Homo sapiens: one gene and its partners. The protein of the gene in region 7 purifies or fractionates together with the protein of the main gene of each other region. This does not show direct contact. Each region holds a gene or a part of one and is shown on either strand. Other genes may lie near its edges.

Evidence for each region.
Region 1: the proteins of RBM45 (region 7) and GTF2I purify together in Homo sapiens (affinity purification with mass spectrometry, with the first as the bait; one large-scale study listed by BioGRID). This does not show direct contact.
Region 2: the proteins of RBM45 (region 7) and DHX30 purify together in Homo sapiens (affinity purification with mass spectrometry; one large-scale study listed by BioGRID and IntAct). This does not show direct contact.
Region 3: the proteins of RBM45 (region 7) and PUM2 purify together in Homo sapiens (affinity purification with mass spectrometry; one large-scale study listed by BioGRID and IntAct). This does not show direct contact.
Region 4: the proteins of RBM45 (region 7) and QKI purify together in Homo sapiens (affinity purification with mass spectrometry; one large-scale study listed by BioGRID and IntAct). This does not show direct contact.
Region 5: the proteins of RBM45 (region 7) and LRPPRC purify together in Homo sapiens (affinity purification with mass spectrometry; one large-scale study listed by BioGRID and IntAct). This does not show direct contact.
Region 6: the proteins of RBM45 (region 7) and FNDC3A purify together in Homo sapiens (affinity purification with mass spectrometry; one large-scale study listed by BioGRID and IntAct). This does not show direct contact.

What each region holds. Positions count from the first base shown.
Region 1 is NC_000007.14:74,663,770-74,667,859, forward strand, and holds part of GTF2I (general transcription factor II-I), read left to right. Parts: intron 1-4,090. UniProt on the Homo sapiens protein: Interacts with the basal transcription machinery by coordinating the formation of a multiprotein complex at the C-FOS promoter, and linking specific signal responsive activator complexes.
Region 2 is NC_000003.12:47,805,823-47,809,912, forward strand, and holds part of DHX30 (ATP-dependent RNA helicase DHX30), read left to right. Parts: intron 1-4,090.
Region 3 is NC_000002.12:20,253,041-20,257,130, reverse strand, and holds part of PUM2 (pumilio homolog 2), read left to right. Parts: intron 1-960; coding exon 961-1,098; intron 1,099-1,789; coding exon 1,790-1,915; intron 1,916-2,146; coding exon 2,147-2,268; intron 2,269-3,116; coding exon 3,117-3,309; intron 3,310-4,090. UniProt on the Homo sapiens protein: Sequence-specific RNA-binding protein that acts as a post-transcriptional repressor by binding the 3'-UTR of mRNA targets.
Region 4 is NC_000006.12:163,571,263-163,575,352, forward strand, and holds part of QKI (KH domain-containing RNA-binding protein QKI), read left to right. Parts: 3' UTR 1-4,090. UniProt on the Homo sapiens protein: RNA reader protein, which recognizes and binds specific RNAs, thereby regulating RNA metabolic processes, such as pre-mRNA splicing, circular RNA (circRNA) formation, mRNA export, mRNA stability and/or translation.
Region 5 is NC_000002.12:43,891,242-43,895,331, reverse strand, and holds part of LRPPRC (leucine-rich PPR motif-containing protein, mitochondrial precursor), read left to right. Parts: intron 1-702; coding exon 703-787; intron 788-4,090. UniProt on the Homo sapiens protein: May play a role in RNA metabolism in both nuclei and mitochondria. In the nucleus binds to HNRPA1-associated poly(A) mRNAs and is part of nmRNP complexes at late stages of mRNA maturation which are possibly associated with nuclear mRNA export.
Region 6 is NC_000013.11:49,135,992-49,140,081, reverse strand, and holds part of FNDC3A (fibronectin type-III domain-containing protein 3A), read right to left. Parts: intron 3,751-4,090; coding exon 3,481-3,750; intron 1,336-3,480; coding exon 1,277-1,335; intron 1-1,276. UniProt on the Homo sapiens protein: Mediates spermatid-Sertoli adhesion during spermatogenesis.
Region 7 is NC_000002.12:178,122,279-178,126,368, forward strand, and holds part of RBM45 (RNA-binding protein 45), read left to right. Parts: intron 1-1,243; coding exon 1,244-1,373; intron 1,374-1,549; coding exon 1,550-1,634; intron 1,635-1,848; coding exon 1,849-2,012; intron 2,013-3,705; coding exon 3,706-3,898; 3' UTR 3,899-3,906; intron 3,907-4,090. UniProt on the Homo sapiens protein: RNA-binding protein with binding specificity for poly(C). May play an important role in neural development.

The DNA of each region.
Region 1 (4,090 bases), on a different chromosome or scaffold from region 7:
TGGGGGAGCAAAACGCCTTAGTGTCTTAGAAGATGTGTGTTTTTTTATTGCATTTTATTTTATTATTATTTATTTTTGAGACAGAGTCTCGCTTTTGTCACCCAGGCTGGAGTGCAGTGGCGTGATCTTGGCTCACTGCAACCTTCGCCTCCTGGGTTCAAGCGATTCTCCTGCCTCAGTCTCCTAAGTAGCTGGGACTATAGGCACCCGCCACCATGCCCGGCTAATTTTGTATTTTTAGTAGAGACGGGGTTTCACCGTGTTGGCCAGGTTGGTCTCAAACTCCTGACCTCAGGTGATCTGCCCGCCTTGGCCTCCGAAAGTGCTGGGCCACCGCACCCAGCCAAGGATGTGTGTATCCTGTAAAAATTGTGTGGGTACGTCATCGGAAGAGGTGAAGGTATTGTCTTGATAATTCTTCATTCTCCATTCTTGCCCTGTCGTCCTTTACTGTTGTCCTTTTGTTCTGGAACTCTCCCTGCTGTCTTCCTGTTTGTTTTCTCCTCTGTAAAATTCTTGTTTTGGTATTCCATGCCTGTTTCTGGCAGTACTCATTTGCTTTTTACCACTTTGGCCTACTGAGAAAGTAAGAGAAAGTTCAGTATAGCCAGGAACTGTCAGAGTTGTTGGAGGATTGACTCATTCTCCTTTGGTTGTAACTTGTTTCTGTTTTTGTTTTTTTGAGAAGGAGTCTCCCTCTGTCGCACAGGCTAAAGTGCAATGGCGCGATCTCGGCTCACTGCAACTCTCGCCTCCCAGGTTCAAGCGATTCTCCTGCCTCAGTCTCCTGAGTAGCTGGGATTACAGGTGTGTGCCACCATGCCCGGCTAATTTTTGTATTTTTAGTAGATACAGGTTTCACCATGTTGGCCAGGCTGGTCTCAAACTGCTGACCTCAAATGATCCACCTGCCTCAGCCTCCCAAAGTGCTGGGATTACAGGCATGAGCCACCACGCCTGGCCAACACTCTATGTAGGATTTTTAAAGAACTAGTTACTTAAAAAATATATCATGAGAGGGAAGACAAATTTATAAATTGAGAGAGGGTTTATAGCTTATGGCTAGCGACACAAGTTTGAAGTCTGACTGCCTGGATTCCAGTCCTGGCCCTTGCCGTTTCCTGCCTGTGCGACCTTGGGCATTTCACTTCATCTTTGTATGTTTCCCTATTTTTTGTTTTTTTTTTTTGAGACAGAGTTTTGCTCTTGTTGCCCAGGCTGGAGTGTAGTGGCGCGCCTGGCTCACCGCAATCTCCGCCTACTGGGTTCAAGCGATTTTCCTGCCTCAGCCTCCTGAGTAGCTGGGATTACAGGTATGTGCCACCACCACGCCTGGCTAATTTTGTATTTTTAGTAGAGACGGGGTTTCTCCATTTTGGTCAGGCTGGTCTCGAACTCCTGACCTCAGGTGATCCACCCGCCTCGGCCTCCCAAAGTGCTGGGATTACAGGTGTGAGCCAACAGTGCCCGGCCTATTTTTTATTTTTATTTTTATTTTTTGAGACAGTGTCTTGCTCTGTTACCCAGGCTGGAATGCAGTGGCATGATCTCAGCTCACTACAACCCCTGCCTCTCGGGTTCGAGTGATTCTTGTGCCTCAGCCTCCCGAGTAGCTGGAATTATAGGCATGCGCCACCACACCTGGCTAATTTTTGTATTTTTAGCAGAGACAGGGTTTCACCATGTTGGCCAGGCTGGTCTCCAACTCTTGACCTCAGATGGTCCGCCCACCTCAGCCTCTCAAAGGCTGGGATTACAGGCCTGAGCCACCACGCCTGGCCCCTATTTTTAAAAATGGAGTTGATAATAGAACATGTTTCGCTTCTAAGAGCTGTTGCAAGGATAGAGTTTAAGTGCTTAGGTTGCTGTCTGGCATGTAGTAGACACTCAAGAAATATTAGTCATAAAAGTACTATTATAAAGACTTTTGGGAAATTGAGGAAGCGAAAATTTTACTAGTAATATCGACTATGACGTTAATCTCCAAGAACTCTGGAGAATATGAATTGCAAGGGCAAGGACTTATTCCTCTGTGGGATTTTCCCCTGTGACTGTTACATTGTTTTTATGTTTTGTTTTGTTGAGATGGAGTCTCCCTCTGTCACCCAGGCTGGAGTGCAGTGGCGGGATCCCAGCTCATTGCAACCTTCACCTCTGCCTCCCGGGTTCAAGTGATTCTCCTGTCTTAGCTTCCCAAGTAGCTGGGACTACAGGCGTGCGCCACCATGCCCAGCTAATTTTTGTATTTTTTAGTAGAGAAGGGGTTTTACTATATGTTGGCCAGGCTGGTCTGGAACCCCTGACCTCAGGTGATCTGCCCATCTCAGCCTCCCAAAGTGCTGGGATTACAGACGTGATCCACCGCGCCTGGCCAGAGCTTGACAGTTGGATTGATGAAACCTGAGAATGTATGCTTTATATGTTGTTCATTTTAATTTGTTATATCTAGAAATTTAGCTCTTACTGTTGACTATAACACATACATGACGTGAGTAGAATTTTATCTAGATTGAGTTTTCAGACCGTAATTGGTTTCAAGAAAATAAATAAGGTATTGGAAGTGAACTAAAATTAGTAACTGGCTTTGGCATTAGACTTTAATGCACTTAAATTACATGATCTCATCTGTGAGATAATTTGACAGAGGAGGACGATGGCATGTATTATGTCCATATGAGGAAAGGGCAGAGAAATAGACCCTGCAAGATTCATTAGTGTTACTCCTTCCTCCTGTTCGTTTTCTTTCTTCGTTTTCCCCCCCGGTAAGCATTAAAAAAAATTTTTTTTGGCTGGGTGTGGTGGCTCACTCCTGTACTCCCAGCACTTTGGGAGGCCATGACTCACTTGAGGTCAGGAGTTTGAGACCAGCCTGGCCAACATGGTGAAACCCCGTCTCTACTAAAAATACAAAAAATTGGCCGGGCACGGTGGCTCACACCTGTAATCCCAGCACTTTGGGAGTCCAAGGCGGGTGGATCACGAGGTCAGGAGATCGAGACCATCATGGCTAACATGGTGAAACCCTGTCTCTACTAAAAATACAAAAAAAAAAAAAAAAAAATTAGCCAGGCGTGATGGCGGGTGCCTGTAGTCCCAGCTACTCAGGAGGCTGAGGCAGGAGAATGGTGTGAAACCGGCAGGCGGAGCTTGCAGTGAGCTGAGATCGCACCACTGCACTCCAGCCTGGGTGACAGTGTGACACTCTGTCTCAAAAAACAAAAACAAATTAGCTAGGCGTGGTGGTGCGCACCTGTAATCCCAGACACTCGGGAGGCTGAGGCAGGAGAATCACTTGAACCCTGGAGGCGGAGGTTGCAGTGAGCCAAGATCACGCCATTCCACTCCAGCCTGGGCCATAGAACAAGACTATGTCTCAAGGAAAACAAACAAACAAAAAAACACATCTCTACTGAAAATACAGAAGTTAGCTGGGAGTGGTGACAGGTGCCTGTAATGCCAGCTGCTTGAGTGGCTGAGGCATGAGAATCACTTGAACCCGGGAGGTGGAGGTTACAGTGTACCGAGATCTTGCCACTGCTCTCCAGCCTAGGCGACAGAGCAAGACACCATCTCAAAAAAAAGAAAATCCTGTAAGATGAATTTGTTCCTTTATGAAGAATAAATTTGTGTCTGCCATTTACACCGTGAATGCCTTTCTTTGGAGTGGTTCCTTGTAGTGTTTTTTGTTGTTGTCGTTGTTGTTAAATTGTGGTAACATATACTTAACACAAAAATTACCATTTTAACCTTTTTTTGTGGGGGGAGGGACGGGATGTCACTCTGTTGCCCAGGCTGGAGTGCAGTGGTATGCTTTTGGCTCACTGTAACCTTCGTGTCCTAGGGTCAAGACATCCTCCCACCTCAGTCTCCCGAGTAGCTGGGACTACAGGTGCATGCCACCACGTCTGGCTTGATTTTTTTATTTTTTGTGGAGATGGGGGTCTCACTATGTTGCCCAGGCTGGTCTCCAACTCCTGAGCTCAAACAATCTGCCTGCATCTGCCTCCCAAAGTGCTGGGATTAGAGACATGAGCTACCACACCCAGCCTGATTTTACCAAAAGAAACTTTTTTTTTTTTTTTTGAGACAG
Region 2 (4,090 bases), on a different chromosome or scaffold from region 7:
GAGCCACTGTGCCCAGCCAGAAGGGTATCATTTTTAGTCATTGTGGAGTCTCTGTCCTGGAACCATCCCCAAGTGACTCTACCTGGAGTTAAATTGTATTTCATTATGCAGGAAATCTTGATATAATAGCATTTTACTTATCTGTAAATTACTTAAGAGACACATTGAGCTACAAGGTTTTTTGTTTTTGAGACAGTCTTGCCCTGTCGCCCAGGCTGGAGTGCAGTGGTGCAATCTTGGCTCACTGCAACCTCCACCTCCTTAGTTCAAGCAATTCCCCTGCCTCAGCCTCATGCCACCAAGCCCGGCTAATTTTTTTGTATTTTTTTTTTTTTTTTTAGATGGGAGTCTCACTCTGTTGCCCAGGTTGGAGTGCAGTGGTGGGATCTTGGCTCACTGCAACCTCTGCCTCCTGGGTTCAAGCGATTCTCCTGCCTCAGCCTCCTGAGTAGCTGGGATTACAGGTGCGCACCACCACGCCTGGCTTATTTTTGTATTTTTAGTAGAGATGGGGTTTCACCATTTTGGTCAGGCTAACCTCAAACTCCTGACCTTGTGATCTGCCTGCCTCTGCCTCCGAAAGTGCTGGGATTACAGGTGTGAGCCACCGTGCCTGGCCAATTTTTTTCTTTTTTTTTTCTGAGATGGAGTCTCACTCTGTCACCCAGGCTGGAGTACAGTGGTGCAATCTTGGCTCACTGCAACCTCCGCCTCCCGGGTTCAAGCGATTCTTCTGTCTCAGCCTCCTGAGTAGCTGGGACTACAGGCGTGCACCACCACGCCTGGCTAATTTTTTGTATTTTTAGTGAAGATGGGGTTTTACCATGTTGGCCGTGCTGGTCTCGAACTCCTGACTTTGTGATCCACCTGCTTCGGCCTCCCAAAGTGCTGGGATTACAGGAGTGAGCCACTGCGCTCAGGCGTGCCTGGCCAATTTTTTTTGTATTTTTAGTAGAGACAGGATTTCACCATCTTGGCCAGAATGGGCTCGAACTCCTGACCTCAGGCAATCTGCCTGCCTCAGCCTCCCAAAGTGATGGGATTACAGGCGTGAGCCACCAAGCCTGGCCCACTACAAAGATTTTTAAACATTACTGCATTATGGCCGGTCGTGGTGGCTGATGCCTGTAATCCCAGCACTTTGGGAGGCTGAGGCGGGCGGATCACAAGGTCAGGAGTTCGAGTCCAGCCTGGCCAACATGGTGAAACACTGTCTCTACCAAAAATACAAAAATTAGCCAGGCGTGGTGGCGGGTGCCTGTAATCCCAGCTACTAGGGAGACTGAGACAGGAGAATCATTTGAATCCGGGAGGTGGAGGTTGTAGTGAGCAGAGATCATGCCATTGCACTCCAGCCTGGGCAACAAGAGCAACACTCTGTCTCAAAACAAAACACCATTACTGACTGCATTACAAGGAAGACCGCTTTCTTTTGGATCTCTATGAAATGTTCTAGAGCTCTGTAAATTCTGTCTCTAAAAGATCCTGTCTTGATTCTCATAGTATCGTTTTTTTAGATTAGTACAGGAAAAAGAATGGTACATGAGCCTAAATTGACATATTGGGCTAGAGGTTTAGGGACTTTTAAAAAGCAAAACTGGCCGGGCACGGTGGCTCATGCCTGTAATCCCAGCACTTTGGGAGGCCGAGGCAGGCAGATCATGAGGCCAAGAGATCGAGACCATCCTGGCCAACATGATGAAAGCCCATCTCTACTAAAAATCCAAAAAAATTTAGCCGTGCATGGTGGCGTGTGCCTGTAGTCCCAGCTACTTGGAAGGCTGAGACAGGAGAATAGCTTGAACCCGGGAGGTGGAGGTTGCAGTAAGCTGATATTACGCCATTGCCCTCCAACCTGGTGACAGAGCGAGACTCTGTCTCAAAAAAAAAAAAAAAAAAAAAAAAGCAAAATCAAGAGTCTATTTGCAAGCAAATTAACTTACAAATTTTTTTTTTAGAGGCAGGGTCTCACTGTGTTGCCTAGGCTGGTCTTGAACTCCTGGCCTCAAGCGATCCTTCACCTGGGCGTCCCAAAGTGCTGGGACTACAGGCATGAGCCACCCCACCTAGCCATTAAATTTTGCTTTTTTTTTTTAAATTTTTTTGAGACAGAGTTTCGCTCTTGTTGCCCAGCCTGCAGTGCAGTGGCGCAATCTCATCTCACTGGAACGTCCACCTCCTGGGTTCAAGTGATTCTCCTGCCTCAGCCTCCCACGTAGTTGGGATTACAGGCATGCACCACCACGTCCGGCTAATTTTGTATTTTTAGTAGAGACGGGGTTTCTGCATGTTGGTCAGGCTGGTCTCAAACTCCCGACCTCAGGTGATCTGCTTGCCTCGGCCTCCCAAAATGCTGGGATTACAGGCATGAGCCACTGCACCCGCCTTACTTTTTGTTTTTTTTTTTTAAGAGAGACAGGGTCTTGCTTTGTCACCCAGACTGGAGTGCAGTGGCGTGATCACAGCTCACTGTAAACCTCAAAATCCTGGGCGAAGTGATCCTCCTGCCTCAGCCTCCTGAGTAGCTAAGACTGCAAGCATGTACCACCACACCTGGCTAATTCTGAAAATTTTTTTTAGAGATGCGGTCTCACTATGTTGCCCAGGCTGGTCTTGAACTCCTGGTCTCAAGTGCTCCTCTCATCTCAGCCTCCCAAAGCGCTGGGATTACAGGTGTGAACCACTGTGCCTAGCCAGTTTACCATTTCGTAGCAATAGAGTATTGTTTCTTTTTTTTTTTTCTTAAATTTATTTTTTATTTTTATTTTTTTGAGATGGAGTCTCGCTCTGTTGCCCAGGCTGGAGTGCAGAGGTGTGATCTTGGCTCACTGCAACCTCCGCTTCTCGGGTTCAAGCGATTCTCCTGCCTCAGTCCCCTGAGTAGCTGGGATTACAGGCATGCGCCACCACAGCTGGCTAATTTTTGTATTTTTACTGGGGGCGAGGTTTCCTCATGTTGGCCAGGCTGGTCTCGAACTTCTGACCTCAGGGTGATCCGCCCACCTCAGCCTCCCAAAGTGCTGGGATTACAGGCATGAGCCACTGCAACCAGCCGAGTTTTGTTTTTTGTTTTTGTTTTTTTTGAGACAGAGTCTCACTCTTGTTGCCCAGGCTGGAGTGCAATGGTGCGATCTCGGCTCACTGCAACCTCTGCTTCCCGGATTCAAGCGATTCTCCTGCCCCAGCCTCCCGAGTAGCTGAGATTACAGGCGCCTGCCACCGTGCCTGGCTAATTTTTTGTATTTTTTTAGTAGAGACGGGGTCATGTTGGTCAGGGAGTATTGTTTTTTAAGTAATATTCACTTAAAATGTTTTAGATTTTATAATATTCTGGTTTTCTTTTAAATTAGAATGTCAAATTACACACTTTTTATTTTCATTTGGATAGAAGGTGTCTATGGAATGTAACTTCTTTTTTTTTTTTTTTTTTTTTTTTTGAGACGGAGTCTCACTCTGTCGCCCAGGCTGGAGTGCAGTGGCACAATCTTGGCTCACTGCAAGCTCTGCCTCCTGGGTTCACGCCATTCTCCTGCCTCAGCCTCCTGAGTAGCTGGGACTACAGGCCCGCACAACCATGCCTGGCTCATTTTTTTGTATTTTTTTAGTAGAGACGGGGTTTCACCGTGTTAGCAAGGATGGTCTCGATCTCCTGACCTCGTGATCCGCCCACCTCGGCCTCCCAAAGTGCTGGGATTACAGGCGTGAGCCACCGCGCCTGGCCGGAATGTAACTTCTTAAAGTAAATGTTATCATTGTTGATATTGTATTGAAGTTTTCTCTGTGATATACCATATCCTATGGGCTGAAATTTCCAGCATCCCTTGGGGAGTGGAGGCCATCAGGGCAGACCTGCTATGGACCTGAAAGATTCCGCCCCAGGTCAGCCCTCCACTCCCCACCTCCCCACAATTTGAGAATGAGAGGGAACAGGAGTCAGGAGCCGGAGTGTTGGCCCCAGTAGACTCCAATCAATGTTGGACATGATTCTGATTGGCTAAACACTGTGTAGATGTTTTTAAACAAAGTCCATTTAAGGTTACTGCACTAATCAAGGAGTACTGGATTATAAAAACATCTATAAATCTGAGTT
Region 3 (4,090 bases), about 160 Mb from region 7:
CATTAGCAGTAAGTCTTTGTTGAAACAGTTAATGAATAACAATATTATTTGGATTTCTTTTTTTTTTTTTTTTTTTTTTTTTTTTTTGAGACGGAATCTTGCTGTGTCGCCCAGGCTGGAGTGCAGTGGCACAATCTTGGCTCACTGCAACCTCCGCCTCCCAGGTTCAAGTGATTCTCCTGCCTCAGCCTCCGAAGTAGCTGGGATTACAGACATGCGCCACCACGTCTGGCTAGTTTTTTGTATTTTTGGTAGTAATCGGAGCCATGTCGCCCGGGCTGGTCTCAAAACTCCTGAGCTCAGGTGATCCACCAGCCTCAGGCTCCCAAAGTGCTGGGATTACAGGTGTGAGCCATCGCATCTGGCTATAAGCACTTTATTATAAGAGCATTTTATAAAAGAACAAAGATACCTGACATTAATTCTTCCCTTAGGGAATTATTGAGATAATATGTAAAAATCATAGCCCATAAGTAGTCATCAACTTCTTAGCCTTTTCTATGTACTTGATAAACTCACTCAGCCATTAAAAATAATTCCTTTGGTGGTGGAGGTGGTACTAAGTAAGGCGGAAGTGTGTAATTCTGAATTAGTCATGTTAGTTACCGCCCGATAAATATTAGCGGATGATTTACACAGTGAAGACAGTTTAAATACAGCAAGTTCAGCATCACTACGTTGTTTCAACATACATCATTTACATTATAATCCTGCAGTGTGTTTTAGTAATTTTCACTTTTCAATGGTTTCTGCTAATTATACTACAAGAGAAAAAAATTTAAACCCTTGACAAACAGGAAATAATATTTGTGAATATATTTGTGTTCCCATCTCAGTATTTTTAATACTGAGATAAATATACTGAGATTTTTAATATTTTTAATTTTTAATACTGAGATAAAATATACTAGTATTTTCTCGTTTGAGGTAATAATTTAAATGACATCCTGTCTTTTGCAGAGTGAAATGGTAAAGGAGCTGGATGGTCATGTGCTCAAATGTGTGAAAGATCAGAATGGAAACCATGTTGTACAAAAATGTATCGAATGTGTTCAGCCACAGTCACTACAGTTCATCATTGATGCTTTCAAGGGACAAGTATGTTTGAGTTTTGGCTTATAATTTGTTAGCAGGGCATTATTTTAGAATTTTGAATATCAACACGTTTTTCATGAGTCACTAGATAATACCCAGCAATTGTATACAAAAATAGGATACAAAACAGTAAATGTACATTAATTTCTTCCTCTTTCATAGTCAGTAGATAGCTTCATTTTTCTGAAGCTGCAAAACAAATAGTTTAATCACATTACTTTAAGAAGTAAAGGTAATCACTGTTAGAATTGTTTTTTATTTATACCCAACGATGTTTTCAGGTTTACTCAGAGAAGGGAAGGAGGTTTGGAGAAAGACATAAGACTGTATAATAAGACAGAAAACACATAGCAATTTGTAACTAATACATAGTAATTAATATTTCTTAATGCTGAACTACCCTTTCTCTTTTCACCCATTCATTCCCATTGTTACATAACCTCAGGTTCAGGTAAAGTTCTGGTTAGGTTCCTTTTGATCAAAATATCTTCAGCTCCTAAATGGAGTGCTCCCTGTCCCCACTCTCCAGTCTTTTCTAACATGGTGGTAGTCATATTAAATGTGAGTTCATCACCCTTCTATTTCAAACTGCTTTTAGGTGTTGTCAAAAAAAAAAAAAACAAACCAGTCTGCTTCATAGAACTGTTCAAAAATGTCAGAGAATACAAATTTTAATTCTTCTAATTGTCCTCAGGTATTTGTGCTTTCAACTCATCCTTATGGCTGCAGAGTAATTCAGCGCATCCTAGAGCATTGCACTGCAGAACAGACCTTACCTATCTTAGAAGAACTCCACCAACATACAGAGCAGTTGGTACAGGTATAAATTCCCTAATAATTTGAAATGTTTATATATTTTTGGAAATTGTTTTAATTTTTAAAAGAAATACAATTTGTTACTAAACACACTATAGACAAGAGTGAGACAAAAGGCTGTTGTATTCTCCTAACTATCCTACTGGATTTTTAGATGAAATGATTAACATGTCTTTAAAGAATATCATTCTTAAGGAATGACTTAGGGAAAGTAATTTTTAAATATCTGTCTTAGGATCAGTATGGCAATTATGTTATTCAGCATGTACTGGAACACGGTCGACCTGAAGACAAGAGCAAAATTGTTTCCGAAATCAGGGGAAAGGTTTTAGCCCTGAGTCAACACAAATTTGCCAGGTATTGTAATACTTTGTAATTTTAAGGGTCAATTCTTTCAACTCATTGACTTTTATTAGTTATCACAGAAATACGTGTAGCATGTAGCATTAAACTGTAGTCTTTTTTTTTTGGTATCATTAAAATGCACCTATAGAACATTGCTTTTGTTTTTTAAAAAAATCTACATAACAAATTTGTTTTGCCCACATATGTTCATTTATGAAATCTGTATTTGGAAAATAATTACTCCCGACACTGGAAATGCAGATTTATTTAGTACATGTTTCTTGAAAACCTCACAGCTTTAATGATCTGGTTTCCTTTTTTTTGAAGTACAATTTTAAGAGACCTGTAATTAAACTTGTGGATGTCAAAATGATGTAGGTTGTTCCAAGATACCAATTTCTGTTATAAAAGTAATTGGCTGGGTACAGTGTCTCACACGTGTAATCCCAGCCAGCACTTTGGGAGATCAAGGCAGGAGGATCAGTCGAGCCCAGGAATTCGAGATCAGCCTGGACAACATAGAGGGAGATCCTTTCTCTACAAAAAATTATCCAGGCGTGGTGGCGCATGCCTGTAGTCTCAGCTATGGGGGAGGCTGAGGTGGGAGAATCACTTCAGCAAGGGAGGTCAAGGCTGCAGTGAGCGGTGATAGCATCACTGCACTCCAGCCCGGGTGACAGAACAAGACCCTGTCTCAAAAAAAAAAAGAACAAAATAAAATAAAAGTAATCATAAGACAAGAGAATCCCATCCTGACTTCTGTTTTATTGTTCATTGGAGAAGATTCTTTCTATAAGTCAAGGAAATTTTGCTGTGAAGAAAAAAATAACAAATCTTTGTTTATCTGCTTTAATTTTTAGCAATGTAGTAGAAAAGTGTGTTACTCATGCCTCCCGTGCTGAGAGAGCTTTACTGATTGACGAGGTTTGCTGCCAGAATGATGGTCCTCACAGTGCCTTATACACCATGATGAAGGACCAGTATGCCAATTACGTGGTTCAAAAGATGATTGATATGGCTGAACCTGCTCAGAGAAAGATAATCATGCACAAGGTAATACAGCATGTAACACTCAGATAACTGTTTGTCTTTGTGTTTAGGCTACACATTTAACCTCCTTGGGCTTTCATTTCCTCCCGTATGTTATAACTGGAGGAAAAATTAAAATCGATGGATATCCTTTGGCAGATATATTGGTATGGTTTCCATTTTTATGCTTAAGGTTATCATGGCCAGGCATGGGGGCTTTTGCCCATAATTCCAGCAGATTGGGAGGCTGAGGTGACAAGATCACTTGAGCCCAGGAGTTTGAGACCAGCCTGAGCAATGTGGCAAGACCCTCCCTCTACAAAAAAAAAAAAAGAAAAACAATTAGACAAGCATCATGGTGCAACCCTTTAGTCCCAGCTACTTGGGAGGCTGTGGTGGGAGACCACTTGAGCCCAGGAGTTCAAGACCAGTCTGGACAACATAGACCCCCATCTCTACAAAAAATTTAAAAATTAGCTGGGTATGACGATACATGCCTGTGGTCCCAGCTACTCAGGCAGCTGAGATGGGAGGATCGCCTGAGTCCCGGAGGTTGAGGCTACAGTGGGCTGTGTTCATGCCAGTGCACTCCAGTCTGGGCAACAGAGCAAGACCCTGTCTCAAAAAATAAATCAGTCATTCAAAAGAAATTCTTAAGGAATCATATTCATTTCTCATCTGTTACCTATGTTTTACATTGTTCTTTTTGCCTTCATCTTATTTAACTGTACAGTTGCCCGTCAGTAACTGGGGGATTGGTTGCAGGACCCACCCACTCCTGTGCCAAAATTCACGGATGCTCAAG
Region 4 (4,090 bases), on a different chromosome or scaffold from region 7:
AGGGCAGAAGTTGCAGCCTTTTTTATATTGCCTGCCAAAATTTGAAGTATTAGAAGAAAGTGTGCCATGAGAGAAAAACTTAAGGAGTTTTGAAAAGTAATGCAAATAACAAAACTGCAACACTATTTTTAAAAAGATAAATATCTGAGTTAAAATTACTGAATCTTTATTTTACACCTAAAAAAATATGAGAACAAGGTACATGCATTATGTGTCACATTACTGGGCAAACTGTTCAAGTATTTTTTTTTAAACCTCCCTGTATAGAAAAAAATCATTAAGGATGTAAAAGCCATGCTTGCCTATTTGCTGTATACATGTAATGAAATTGTAGATAAAGTGTAGTGCATTGAAACAAATGAACAAAAAGTAGATACTTTTACTATACAAGGGTGCTGGTGCAGAAAAAAATATATATATTTTTGGAAATGTAGCATTTTATACTTTCAAGTGTTATAAAAAAAAAGAAAAAGAACAAAGAAACCCTTTATTTCATTAAATGATTTTTTCTGGTGGTTGTCAAGAAACAAAAGACCAAAAGAGCCTTTTTGTCTTTCTTTTTTATTTTTTAAGTATTGGAATAAGTCTAAAGAAAAGAAAGTGCCTTATTTTCCTTCATGGTCATTCAGTCAAGTGTCTCATAAAGATCAGCTCCTCCCTCAGAATACAAGTTAATGCATGTTACTCAGTCGCCCAGTATGTGAAAGAAGATATGAGGGAGACAAATGAGTTGATAGTTTGAATTATAGGATTTTTGCCACGTTACCTTGATGCAAATTTGCCAAATCTGATACTGTGAAAAGATTTGATAACTTTTCTAATGCCTGACTAGTAAGTTTTAAAACATCATTCTTTAAAAGAATAGTTTAATACTTTTGGTTATTCCAATCTTCAATGTTAACCCAAAGGATTCTGAGATAAAAATTATGTGTCATCTAAACTTCAGTTTACAGACAAAATTAGAGCTTTGTTTTATTTGGAGAAGGGGGATGCATTCATTTGATTTTGTTTTTTGTTTTTAATTAATTGAATATAATAGGATACCTAGCAAATGTTTTCACAAAAGTGAATCTTTGTGATTTTCATTCTAGAAAACAATGTTTTAAATCACCCAAATTTAATCACATGTCTTTATATCATACCAGATAACTGGTGTAGTGTATCCTTTTACTGTTTCAATAACCTCTGCCTCCCCCACCCCTTAACTTTAAAAGAATGTGAAAAACTAGCATCATAGTGCATATAAATACTCAACCACATTTCAGCTTAAGCTTCTAATTTCTCAAGAAGTTGAAACAGTTAGTTATGTAGTTGAAGCAATTTGTGTGCAAAGCCTACATCTAAACACTTGAGTGAATAATCATTAACTGCTCAGTACCAGACGTGGCAAATCTCAAGTGACAGTGGACCCCCCCCCCCGCCCAGCTTATCAACTCGTCCCCTCTTCCACACCTTCCCAGCATCACAGTCAGAGGTCAGCAGGAAGCTGAGTCATTACCTTCTTGGTGACCTCCCCCACCATCTTGTCTCACTTGGAAACCGTTGTCAGTTTATTTACTATGCAATAGACATTCATTGTTTTGTATCCAGCTAGCTTTGGTTTAATATGCCACTGCTTTGTCTTTCTGTTACACATACAGTTTTGATTTATTTACAATATATGCTGTGCCATTTTGATTTTTATATTGTTTGGTTGGTTGAATAAATTTGCGACACTCAAACACTTGAGGTGATAGTTGTTAAAAACAATACCAGTATTTGATCCAGTTTCATCTCAACTATGTTATACCTGGACATTTTAGATGTTTATCAAAGGTCTTTTATGGGGAAGAAAGTAAATGTATGAAATAATAAATGTGTGACATTTATAGGGAATGTTGGCTCTGAACAAACTTTTGAAAACTTGGTTGACAAAATTTTGGATCAACTGAAAAAAGCATGACTTTTGAAATCTCTGAATGCCTTGGTTCTCAGTATTATCATTCTTTATTGAATTTATTTCTTATTAAAATATGTAGTTTTTAAGACTTTTTTTCTGACAGTATTATGTAATTTTTTAGCGTGGGTAGATGGGAGTGTCGCTTGTATGTTATCGTACAGCTGACATGTATTTTTGTCTATTCTTTATTATCTTAGTTTCATGCTATGTATGTACCATAACCAACCTATTGCCTATGAGAAACATGTAAGATAATGTATTTACAGCCATTGTTACAAGTTTATAATGTATTTTTCTATCTTGTTTTATATGTATGTTATATAACATTCAAAAAGAATTTTTTTCTTGATTGAGAAAAGGATACAAAATGCAAAATCCACAATTTTGATAACTGAAAATTGCCAATTGTTTTGCAGTACTTTATTATATTGGGTGTCTTGTCTTTTTTGGGCTTTTAGTTAGCTAATGAATGAATACATTAGACACTTTTGGGTTTTAGTTGGGATTTTACATAGCTTGCATTTTAATTCTTTGGTTCTTTGCTGTTTCTATTAACCCACAGCATTATTTTAATAAATGTTATAATACCAACCTACTAACTCTGGACTTTGTCTGTTTATTAACCTTTATATGTTTAATTAAAATAAACAAATAAAGACAAAAGAATGTAAAGTCTTGAGTTACTGGACTAACCCTGAAGAACGTGACCACAGATAACATAGTGTGACTTGTTTTTATGTTGTTTGTCAGCTGACAGTTTTGCACACTACTGTTAAAATGGCTTTGGTTATTCTGGTCTTTTAGCTTGGGGGCCGGGGCGGGTGTGGGTGTAGGTGCAGTAGAGATGGGAACAAAGTAGCCTTTGTTTGAGGCATTCTTCTCTTGCCACTTGCCTTTCAGCATCTGCATTACTAATTCCACACCTTATTTTTCCTTCTCCAAAATAATCACTGTCTGCTCACAGCATCGAGTAAAAAGATACATTGTCATGGTATATACCTGGAGAAACCAGTTTGATTCTTTGTTGAACCATTTCTTTTAATTTCTGTAAATAAGTAATTTTATGGTCACATTGTAAAGCAGAGAAACTGTTGATATTTTACCTTTATTTAGATTTTTGTTTTAACTTGACCTTTTTCCTTTGGAAAGCGTTGAACTTGTTTAGCTAACTACTCCTATTAGGGGAGCTTAACTTGGGTAAAGTCAAAGGCCCACTGGCTGTTTCTCATGGTGGCCTGAAGCCCCGCTGCTTTCCAGTGAGGAAAAGAACCCTCAGCACGTTACTGAGCTTTCCTCAGGTATTTTTTTCTCTGTCACCTACTTTACAAATACAGTCAGACTAAAACATTAAACAAGAAGTTTAAGGGGGAATAACATTGGGATTTGAAAAGTTGTATGTGATTAATTTCTTGCATGCAAATCAATTTAAGATTTCTTAAATATCTTCATGCTTTTCTTGGCTGGAACTTGGGTAAATTAACCTGTAATTATGAATTATTTAGTTTAACTCAAGGTGCATTTTTATTTCACAGATTGATACTTGCTTTTTTCTGTGAAACAGTTCTCCTAGATACCAAAATCCTCAGGATGAATTTTTGCATTTGTAAATAACAATTTATCTTTGTAAATTACATTTTATTTATTTAGAGTTCTAAAATTGAGGGCTGAAATGAATGACATGTAATAGAAGACAAAACTGTACCAATACGCTGTTAACCAATCAGACTGTCCAGGTATTCTCATTTCATAAATATGTATACACACATATAAATACACAGAGTAGTGTTAGCTGATGTGAGTGATAACAGCGAATCACCATTGAGATGGTCATTTGGATCATGTAAACAAACCGTGTCATGTCTCTGATGGGAGCGGTGGGTAGTGTACTGTTAGGTGGACAGGTCTTTTAACATGCTACTATTTGTAAAAGTTTCCGTTGCCATAACAGTTCATGTAGTAGTCTGTGAAAATTCGAAGCTGTCTGTCAAGCTGCTAATATACAAGTTGTCATGGTACCATGTAACTTAAATTGATGAATTTCTATGCAATTTACTATTCTCTGAAGCCTATGAATGCAGCCTCATCTCATTTTCAGTTAAGGGTACTTTATGTATAATTATGTCATTGCTGCCTTTTATGTAGGAAATGTAA
Region 5 (4,090 bases), about 130 Mb from region 7:
GTTAGGATTTTTAAGATGCCTGTTAACAGTGTTCCATTGCTTGACAGTAGAATAGTTAAGCCAGATTTTGCTCCTCTTGGTGAGATGGGAAGAGGGCATAGATGTTTATATATCCATCATGGGTTTATCCAGTAACGTTGGAGTAGGGCGGGAAATACTCAGCAGATATTCATTACGGCATAGCAGTTCTGTATTCACTCGCTACAGGAAATAAAGCCATAGCCGAGTCTGCATATTCCTGGAAGAAATAAGTAAAAATTTCAGTGAGATTCTGGAAATGCTCTTTTTTGTATGTCAAGTGTGTAACACTTCAGAATGTTTTAACTGAATTCTTTACAATTTCATCAACCAGTTGTGGCACCTAAAGATAGGGTTGTTATCTCTCTACCCTTGGGATCTCATAACTTCTTGGTATGGTCACCACTTGACAAAAGAAGCAATGTGTTTATCATATTCTAGAAAAATATTCATAGAAATGTAAGTGGAATTGCATTAACCTGTGGAAAAATGCTGGTTTCTTTTAGCTGTAGATTATTGAGTCAATATCAAATGCTAATATACAAGGGACAATAGTGCATTAAATTTAATAGGTAGTTCTGTTATAATTATTGTGAAAATTTTTAATATAGTGTTGATTTGTCAGTGTTCTAATTCACTGTTAATTTGCGGTTTTCATAATATTACCTTTATGTAATTTCCTAGGCATCAACTGTGAAATCTGTGTTAGAATTGATTCCTGAATTAAATGAAAAGGAAGAAGCATACAATTCCCTCATGAAAAGCTATGGTAATATAAGTTTAATTTGACTATATTATTTATTTAAATGGCTTTATTATTTAAGTGACTATATCATGTAAATGACTTGTAGTATAGTGAACTAAGTCTTAGTCTTCAGCTCAAAGGCAGTAATCCTAAATATCAGATAATTATGATATAAATAACTCAGTTCTGGAATATGTTTTTAAACTATTAAGAAAAATATGAAATTATGCATATAACTTTAACATTAAAAAGTATCACTGAACATCTTCCGAGCAGTCCGGGTATATTGAGTAGAATCCCAGGCTCCTGGGAAGACCTGGAAATCCTCTTGGACTTATATATCAGAAACCAGTTCAGTCTCCCCAAGGGCCTGCCACCTGAAACAAGTACACATTTGAGACTCACTTAACTGGCCTTCTTGCTCCTTCAGTACCCTCTCTGCTTGCCTGCTACTCCTTTGAAATGACAGACCCTTGATTAAAAAGTAGCCCAAGGTTTTTACGTCCCAGTTCAAATTCTGGTCTTTTAACCAGTTTGTTCCCTGATTGCCAGACAATCACATATGAAAGGAAATTGTCTAAAGTTTCCTCAGTCATCAAAATAAATGTTAGCATTTCTCAATCATGATCACCTCTCCATCTGTGGCCCACTGATTTGCTCACTGGAGGCATGGGGTAAATAAAGAATTGCTTCATTGATTTTATCTATGGGAGGACAACAGACTCAAGAATCAGAATTAGTAAGTCAGTTCTCTTTTTCCGTCCTTACAGGGAGAACATTCTGTATTATTTCAAAATAGAGCTAATAGTCATAAAATTTATCAAATTTCCAGTAACTAAACACAGGCATACCTGGAAGATATGGTTCCAGACCACCACAATAAAGCAAATATAATGAACAAAGTTACATGAATTTTTTGGTTTCCCAGTGCATATAAAAGTTATGTTTACACCATAGTGTAGTGTATTAAGTGTGCAATAGCATTATGTTTTTAAAAAGTACATACCTTAATTTTAAGATATTGCTAAAAATAGTTAACGATCATCTGTGCCTTCAGTGAGTCATAATCTTGCTGGTAGAAGGTCTTGGCTCAATGTTGATGGCTGCTGAATGATCAGGGTGATGATTGCTAAAGGTTGAGATGTCTTAAGACAACAATAAAGTTTGCCACATCAGCTGACTTTTCCTTTCACGAAAGAGTTCTCTGTAGTATGCGATGTTGTTTGTTAGCATTTTATCTGCAATTGAATGTCTTTTCAAAATTGGAATCAATCTTCTCAAACCATACCACTGCTTTATTAACTAAATTTATGTCATATTCTGAATCCTTTGTTGTCATCTCAACAGTGTTCACAGCATCTTTACCAAGAGTAGATTCCTTCTCAAGAAACCACTTTCTTTGGTCATCCATAGGAAACAGCTTCTCCTCATGTTAAGTCTGATCATGAGATTGTAGCAATTCAGTCACGTCTTCACGCTCCACTTCTCCTTCTAGTTGTCTTGCTATTTCCACATCTGCAGTGATTTCCTCCACAGAAATCTTGAGACCCTCAAGGGGTTCATCCATGAGGGTTGAAATCAGCTTCTCCCAAACTCCTGTTAATGTTGATAATTTGACCTCCTATCAATTACAGATGTTCTTAATGGCATCTAGAAATGGTGAACCCTTCCCAGAAGGTTTTCAGTTTACTTTGCCCAGATCCATCAGAAGAATCACTGTCTGTGTCAGCTATAGCCTTATGAAACATGTTTTTTTTTTTTAATTTTATGTTTAAAACATGGAACGCTTTACACATTTGCGTGTCATCTTTGTGCAGGGGCCATGCTAATCTTCTCTGTATCATTCCAATTTCAGTATATGTGTTGCCGAAGTGAGCCCAAAATGTGTTAAGACTTGAAAGTCAAGATTACTCCTTGATCTATGGGCTGCAGAATGGATGTTTTATTAGGGCACCTGAGAACAACATTAATCTCCCTGTATATCTCCTTCAGAGCTCTTGGGTGACCAGGTGCATTATCACTGAGCAGTAATATTTTGAAAGGAATCTTTTTTTTCCTGAGCAGTAGGTCTCTACAGCAGGCTTTAAATACTCAGTGAACCATGTATAAACATCCATGCTGTCCTCTAGGCTTTGTTGTTCCATTTATAGAACACAGGCAGAATAAATTTAGCGTAATTCTTAAGGGCCCTAGGATTTGGGAATGGTAAGTGAGCATTGGCATCAACATAAAGTCACCAGCTGCATTAGCCATTGAAAATAGAGTCAGCCTGTCCTTTGAAGCTAGGCATTAGCTTTTCCTCTCTAGCTATGAAATCTTTGATGACATCTTCTAATATAAGACTGTTTTATCTACATGGAGTATCTGTTGTTTAGTGTAGCCGCCTTCATCAGTGGTCTTAGCTAGATTTTCTGGATAACCTGCCGTAGCTTCTGCATCAGCATTTGCTGCTTCACCTTGGACTTTCGTGTCATGGAGATGGCTTCTTTCCTTAAACCTCATGAACCAGCCTCTGCTAGTATTAGGGCCTTGCACTGGATTAGGCTTTGGCTTTTAAGGGAATGTTGTGGCTGGTTTGATCTTCTATCCGGACCAATAAAACTTTCTCCATGTCACTAGTAAGGCTGTGTCAGTTTCTTATCATTTGTGTGTTCAGTGAAGTAGCACCTTTTTAATTTCCTTCAAGGACTTTTCCTTTGCATTCACAACTGGCTGTTCCACGCAAGAAGCCTAGCTTTCAGCGTATCTCGGCTTTTGACATGCCTTCCTCACTAAGCTAAGCTTAATCATTTCATTTCTCGCTTCTGATTTAAATGAGAGATGTATGACTCTTTCACTTGAACACTTAGAGGCTATAATAGGGTTTTTAATTGGCCTAATTTCAATATTGTTGTGTCTCAGAATAGGGAGGCCTGAGTAGAGGAAGACAGGAGAATTACTAGTCAGCATCGCAGTCAGAACACGTTTCTCAAGTTTGCCATCTTCCATGTGTATGGTTCATAGCATCCCCCAATTACAATAGTAACATCAAAGATCACTGGTCACAGATCACCGTAACAGATATAACAATAATGAAAAAGGTTGAAATATTCCAGGAATTACCAAAATGTGACACAGAGACACAAAGTAAGCACATATTGTTGGAAAAATGGCATTGATAGACTTGCCCAAGGCAGGGTTACCATAAACCTTCAATTTGTAAATAACGCAACATCTGTAAAGTGCATTAAAGCCAAGGTATGCCTGTAATGTGAAATAGTGTCAAGCGCATAAATCTGTGTGTGTTACTACTAAATTAGGTAATCCATTTTGGGAGGAAGGTAGAAA
Region 6 (4,090 bases), on a different chromosome or scaffold from region 7:
GGAAAGTGTGAGCCACTGCACCTGGCCTGAAAATTATACTTTTAATATATACTACAACAAGTAAATGCTACTAGCATTAGCTATTAAATCACTCAAACATCAATCTTATTAAGCCTACTAAATTCTTTTTCTAGTAAACCTAGTGATATACACTTGGGGTCTTGGAAGGATACTGCCTAAATTTCAGTCATAGCTCTACTACTACTAATTGAAACTCACTGTTGCTTCAGTTTCCTCATTTGTAAAGCAGGGAAAATAGTACATATATGGTTGTCACAGGTATTAAATAATGCACATGTGCATTCCAAGCACTCTGAACAGAGACTGATGCTAATCAATTTGTGTTAACCATTACTATGAAATAATTGTGTAAATTTACATTTATTTACACATATATGCTCTATTCTCAAGAGAAAACAGATTAGAATAAAGAAAGCTAGAGCAACCAAATCTATTATTTGGGAGTTGTCAGAAAAAGTAGGACCATATTAGTCTATTAGATGAGGAACTGGCTTACTCAAACATCCTAAAACATGGCAAGATAAGCTTAAAAAGCCTTTATGGAGATGGTACTAAGAATAATAACTTTTCTAATCTGTTTTCTCAGAAAAACAAAGTATTTTTGGGGCAACTTAGTATAAAACATTTTACCATGGATGTTTCTGAGAGTTGGGAAAGAGTAGTTTGTTTTATGAACCAAAAAATATTCTTATCAATCTTAAATTGCCTTATTCTGGCTGAAAAAGTCCTATGGCCTACTTCTTCCACCACATCTTTCTCCCCTTCACTATACTCCAGTGATAATGGTTCTTTCCCTCTGTCCAACTCCCCATGCTTACTTACACCTGTTCTCCCTCTCCCATTCCTTCCACTTTTGCACTTTTTCTCACTTGTCAGAGAAAGCTTCCCTGATTGCTCTATTTAACCTAACAACCTCTCCTATTAATCTCATCATATCATTCCTATTTCTATAATAGCAATCTTTACTATCACACAGAATTCTGTTTGTGCATTTGTTTTTTATTTATTGGCATATAGTAAGGGATCAATAAATATTTGATGAATGAATGACAAAACTATGTAGCTCTTCAAAGAATCAGGTAATGACATAGAAAGATAGCTAAAGCATACCATAGTGAGTGAAAAAGCTTGTCACAGAATACAGTATGATCCTATTTTCATAAAAAGTTAAAAGAAAAAAACTACATTTTGATGGATGAACATCTTATGCTAATATATTAAATATAAACATCAATAAAATACATAAGATACTTACCACTGGTTTGACAATGTTGGAAAGAAGTGCTTCAAATGCTTTAGTTTCTTCATCTTTTTCTTAAAAAAATAAAACATTTGAATATTTAAAAAAAAGAACTTAGATACAATCCCTTCTTCTCCCTAAATATGTATTCTGAAACTAGGTTGGTATTTGAGACTTTTATTTTCTAGTTTTTATTCCTTTGTTCATACTCAGCAGTTTGTGGCCCTTCAGCATTTATCTACTTTAGTTTTTATTTCTATCTTAACTGTGACTACTAATTATAACACCACTATATACAGATATATCTATATATATTTAGACATAGCTATATCTATCTGAACCAAATTTTTCTTATATCAAGTATATTTTTATTCATGGTTGTAAGAATATTCTCTCTGGAAAGTTCTCATTTGTCAATCTCATACCTCTTAATAAAGTTAACTATTTTTTCATGACATGCCTTAGTTATGGTTTCCCAAATTAGAAATATAATTGGCTTGACTGTAACTTATAGCCACCACTGATAGGCAAAAAACTTTAACTTAATTTCTTCTGAAACATCAGTGCTGAAAACGATGATCAGGTCTCAAATAAATGGGAGAACATTTATGTAAATGTTGTTAATATATAAGTCATGAACAGTTAAGACATTATTTGAAATTTGTTAGTGAGGCATGGAAATTTTAAGGAAAAGGAAGGTAGGAAGAGTTCACATGGCTTACATTTTGATATTTCCCTCAAAGTTGGAAGCATTTTAGTTCCTAGTCATATATTAATTACCTACACTATTTGATAGTAAATATCAATTTAGATAAGCATATTCAAGGACTGATAGAGTTGTGGTTATTGGTGCTTGTGAAATGACATGTTGGTATGGTTCATAGTCATTTCTGATGAAACCTTTAGAACCTGACATGGTCTACCATGCATATCTATGTATTTCTACATACGCATATCTACGTCAAACAGATAATAGTCAGTATTAAGGAAACCTAAAAGAACATACATATAGAAACTACATTAATCAAAGTAAGCAGTAGTTACAAGCTTAACATTACAATCAAAAGTACTGGGTACTAACTCCACAACTGTAGGCATATGAAAGACAGGCTGTTAACCCAGCTATATTTTACCTTATAGAGATTGATTCAAGTATATACAAATAATAGTGCTCAAAGTCCATATAGTAGGCTCATGCCTGTAATCTTAGCACACTGGAAGGTCAAGGTGGGTGGACTGCTTGAGCCTAGGAGTTGGAGACCAGCCTGGCCAAGATGGTGAAACCCTGTCTCTACTAAAAATACAAAAAGTAGTTGGGCGTGGTGGCATGCGCCTTTAGTCCCAGCTACTCAGGAGGCTGAGGCACGAGAATCGCTTCAACACAGGAGGCGGAGGTTGCAGTGAGCTGACATTGCGCCACTGCATTCCAGCCTGGGTGACAGAGCGAGACTTGGTCTCAAAAACAAACAAACAAACAAAAACCAATAAAACAAAGTTCATAGAGTAGAAGTCAGAGGTTAGGGGAAGGATCCAAGAGTAACAAGGAGAGTTTAGGAGAAAAGAACTTTTGAAGAAAGAAATGAAAAATACTCTATCCTAATTACAGAGTATATAGAGAGATTAGTAAATGATATAACTATTTGCTATCAAGGTTTTACTCAAAAAGAAGGTGGGAGAAATAAAAAGTTTTGATAGGTTGGGGACAGTGGCTCAGGCCTATAATTGCAGCACTTTGAGAGGCCAAGATGGGAGGACTGCTTGAGCCCAGGAGATCGAGACCAGCATGGGCAAAACAGCGAGACCCTGTCTCTACTAAAAATTAAAAAATTAGCTGGGTGTGGTGGTGTATGCCTGTAGTTTCCAGCTGCAGTTATCTATGATCGTGCCACTCCAGCCTGGGTGACAAAGCAAGACCCTGTCTCAAAAAAAAAAAGTTTTGATTAAAAACCAGCAGCATAGCCTTATCAAACGCCCAGAATCAGAAGAAAGGAATCTGGATTAATGTTCTCTGAGTTTTCCTATCAAATAGAAATTTCAGTCAGTAAAATTTACGATATAGATGAAATTACTAATTGAGGCTTTCCAAACTGTCGAAAGCAGCAGCCTGTAACAGTCTATTTGGACCATGACAAAATGACTGAAAGGTTAGAATATACTTTTAGTAGGTTAAATCACGAGAATAGCATCAATGAGAACAGTTCAGTACTTCAAACAGTTACCTTCAATTTCTGTATCAACTTGTGTACCACCTTTCCCCTTCCCAGACTTGATTTTTGCTGATCCTGTGTTTATACCACCAGCAATTTGTCCTTTTATAAGTCCATTATGTTCATTAATGGGAGAAGGGCATTTCTGGGGTGATGATGGTGGACTGCTCATTTTATCTTTCTGTGTTCCTTGGCGATCCTTCAATTTTTTCTGCAAACGTTCATATGTTTTACTAGATCGTTCATCTCTAAAGTTGGACCTTCCATGTGTAGAGTGAGCATCTAGGAGGCAATAAAAACAAAATGTTAAGAAGATCACTTTCTCCAAATAAGTTTATGCCATGAAAAAAGAACAGAAAATAAATCTATCATATAAAACTTTTATAAAATATTTAAAAGAATTTTGCATAACAAAGCAACCTTTGTGTCTCCATAAACTATCAGAACCAAGCTTTGTGATTTATTCTAATTATATATATCTCTCTCTCAAGTAAATTTACAGAGAGATTTATTTCCTTCTGTTCTCAACTAATTATTAATCTCCATAGAAACAGCTTGGTGGTAACTTATGATTATTGTAGGTGAGGAATGAGACTGGAGCTGAGCAGTCCACAGTTCTTTT
Region 7 (4,090 bases):
CTTGGTTGGCATCTCTTCCAGTTTTGTAAGGATACCTGATTTAGTCCTTTTAGAGTGGCATGGCTATTGACATAGAAGTAGTGACGTGAGTTTGGTCATGTGGACCAACAGGACTAAGGTAACTCCACCCTTCATACAGACACCCCCACATACTCACTAGTACCCAACCCAGCACTAGTCTTTTTGTAGAACTGTCTTTGAGCCATCCCCAGTCTTAACCCGATCATATGCGTCATTCTCTGTTCTAAGACTTCTAGGCACACATTTTTGTGTTCTCTGGCACATTTGTTATATGCATATGAAGTTGTGTTCATTTTGTTTTGTTCCCTCCCTTTTATCTGGTATGTCAAAATGTATTTGTTCCTGTACCTCCTGTTTTGTTTCTCTGGTTGGATGTGTCTGAAATATATGTGTCATTGGAACATCTTTTTATTAATAGAGGTGTCATCATATAGTTCGAATCTCATTTGAATTAACTTTATATGGTCATTTGATTTCTGTGTTTTATTTTAATTTCATTAAAATGTTGGATGCTTGGGTTTCCAGATGAACATAAATTATAAGTGTTTCCCCAGTGGTTTGTATTATAAAAGTGAAAACCTTTTAGTTGTGTCACAAACTCCTGGGCTCTCTAAGGAATGCATTATAACATTGTCCCTCCCTTCAACATCACCCTCCTAAATTGAAATTCGTCCCTTTGGCAGAAATCTCTCCAAAGGAAAGTAAAATATATCACTTGTGATCTGAGATCCTCTGTTCCCTATCTTTTTGTTTTTCATTCAAATCACTTTTCCTCTCCCTACTGCTGCAGATAGCCGGGATGAGTATATATTCTTTTCAACTATCACTTCTCATTTCATTTCCTACCCAGTATGGTTGGGAAAATCTTAAAATTTCAAAGTAGATTTCAAAGAATAAAAATTTAGACTTTTAAGTATATTGGTATCATATAAGAAAAGCTAGTATCCTAAAACTAAACTTATTAGACAGGACGTATGTTAATATTCCATTTTCCCTAAAATATCATGTTCATATTTTTCCCTAAATTATTTCTTCCTTTTCTAGGAATACACCTGTTGCACACATGATAACAGAACTGTGTTTTCTGATACATTCGATTCTGTATTTACTAGTTGTGTGATATTAGAGTTCTACATGGTTTCATTTTTGTGATAGATTGTAACATAGGCCTTAGGCACTCAGTCTGCTTTCCTTTTTCATTTCTGTATGTTCTCTATTTTAGGTCATGGAGTGGTTCAGTATTTTAATGTAGCATCAGCTATTTATGCAAAATACAAATTACATGGATTTCAGTACCCTCCTGGGAACCGAATAGGTGTTTCCTTCATTGATGATGGAAGTAATGCAACAGAGTAAGTACCATTCCAGGAGTGTCTAAAGCCGAGCTTTGAGTGTACATGATTGATAGGACTTGAAGAATAAAAATAGAAACAATTGACCTCTCAGGTGAGAAAGTCACACAAAACAAGCTACTGTTAAAAGACTGAATATTTTTAGTTTTCTGTAAATTATCAGTTATTTTTTCCAGTCTCCTTAGAAAAATGGCAACACAGATGGTAGCTGCACAGCTTGCATCAATGGTGTGGAATAACCCAAGTCAGCAACAATTTATGGTAAGTAGGTAAGAATTTAACCTTTATAATATATCAATAGCATATAAAATAAATGTGAAGAGAAATCATGCTTTGTTGATTATCTGTGTATGAAAATTTTCAGAGCTATTGTGGAAGACCACATAGATGCCATGATACATATCTGTCTTTAGCTCTTGGCCAAAAATCCCTAAAGGGCATTTTTTTCTTTTTCTTGTTTTCTACCTGTTAACAGCAATTTGGAGGAAGCTCTGGATCACAGTTGCCTCAAATCCAGACAGATGTTGTACTTCCATCATGCAAAAAAAAAGCTCCTGCTGAAACTCCTGTGAAAGAAAGACTTTTTATTGTGTTTAATCCTCATCCTTTACCTTTAGACGTATTAGAAGATATATTCTGGTAAGAAAGTTACATTTTTTGTTATATTTTATTTACACTAGTAATTTAATTATTCTTATAATCTAGACACTTCCTTCACCCAGTACCTATCAAGTAGAGAGTATTAGTTCTCTGCTTTTAAAACCTCCTTATTTGTATCATCTTTTTCAATTTCTGATTATTTTCTTCTCTTGTTTATCAGTCACACATCCTAAGGCTCCATAGAGAATTTCCTGCTATTTTGTTTTTGAAACATAAAGTGGGCCTGGTGCAGTGGCTCATGCCTGTAATCCCAACACTTTGGGAGGCCGAGGTCAGGGGATCGCTTGAGCTCAGGAGTTCAAGACCAGACTGGGCAATATGGCAAAACCCCATCTCTACAAAAAATACAAGAATTAGCCAGGCATGGTGGTACATGCCTGTGGTCGCAGATACTTGGGAGGCTAAGGTGGCAGGATTGCTTTTGCCCAGGAGGTCGAGGTTGCAGTGAGCCAAGATTGTGCTACTGTACTCCAGCCTGGGTGACAGAGTGAGACCCTTTTTGTTTTTTGTGTTTTTTTTGCTAAGCATCTTCTGTTTTGTTGGTGCATTGTAGGATCCTTAAGGGTTATGCAGTCGCATTGTGTAAACAATTACTTGATTGTAGGGAAAAATACATAAATGTTTTTTATAATAAAAAAGGGAAGGTTCTTATTTATTTTTGTGTTTTTAACATAACTCCTTTCTTTGCTTTTTCTTTTAGGCCTTTTTCCCATTTGCCTTACAAGAATGTTAGTGAATTTGATAGACAGGAAGCTTGTTAAAGAGCTGCACAAAATATCAGGGACATAATGTGATAGTATATTGAGGCTCAAAAGGAAAAAAATATCAGGATATGGTTCAAGTATTTTGACCTTTATTTAACTGATATATTTAGTTTTCTTCTTGAACCTCCTCTTTGTTCAAGGCAGGAACTGTGCTAAGTACAAGAGACATGTAAACAAAATATTAAATGGACAAGACATTATGATTCTTGTCCTCTTAGAGCTGATCTCATGTAGGAAACAGACAAGTAAACAGAAAATTACAACCCAGGGTGATTGTTGCTGTGATAAGGAATGTGTAAGATACAAAGGAGGAGCAGTTACCTTAGAAACTCTGAGAAGCCTTGAAAGAAGGAAGGTGTATGTGGAGACCTGAAGTATAAAAATAATTTCTCCACAGGTGAAAGCTGGGGGTATGCATGGTTATTTCTGCCATAGAGAATGTAAAAGAAGGGCTGTTAAATAGGGAATTTGAGAGATTGTTAAGGAAGATGAAACTAAAGAGTCCAAGGACAATGTCAGAACGGCTCTAGAGCTATATTAAGGAATTTGTTGTCACCATGGAGGCAATGGGGAGCTGCTGAGGGGACTTTTAGGGAGTAAATGATCATATTTATGTTTTAGAAAGATCACTCAGAAGACAGAGTGAAAAATGGATTGAAGAGGGACAAGCTCAGGGGTAAGGAAACTAGTGAAAAAGGAGTTAGATTAAGGAAAAGATGATGGTCTGAATGAGAAGAGAGATCTGAATGAGAATGAATAGAATTGACTGAGATGTTTAAGATTGACATGAGTTGGATGTTGGATCTGGGGAGAAGGGTGAAAATGGAGTCAAGAATGGACTCCAAATTTTAGACCTGAGCAGTTGTATTTATCAATTTTGGTTGATTATTTTTTTCACTTTGTTTCAGTCGTTTTGGTAACCTGATCGAAGTTTACCTTGTGTCAGGAAAAAATGTGGGGTATGCCAAGTATGCCGATAGAATAAGTGCTAATGATGCCATTGCCACTCTACATGGAAAGATTCTGAATGGGGTGAGACTTAAAGTTATGCTGGCAGATTCGCCAAGAGAAGAATCTAACAAACGGCAAAGAACTTACTGATTCTTGAGGTAAGCCCTTTTTAATCTGAATTTTAAAACATATTGAGTAAATAGTATATGAGGAATATGTGTAAGTACTTTATAAACTTTTCTTTTTAGTGATTTAGAAGTTGTCAGTTAAAAGAGCTTTGCAACTATTTAAACTTTAAAAATTGTTGACATTTACTGAAGAATGTTTTTGCCCTTCTGTAAA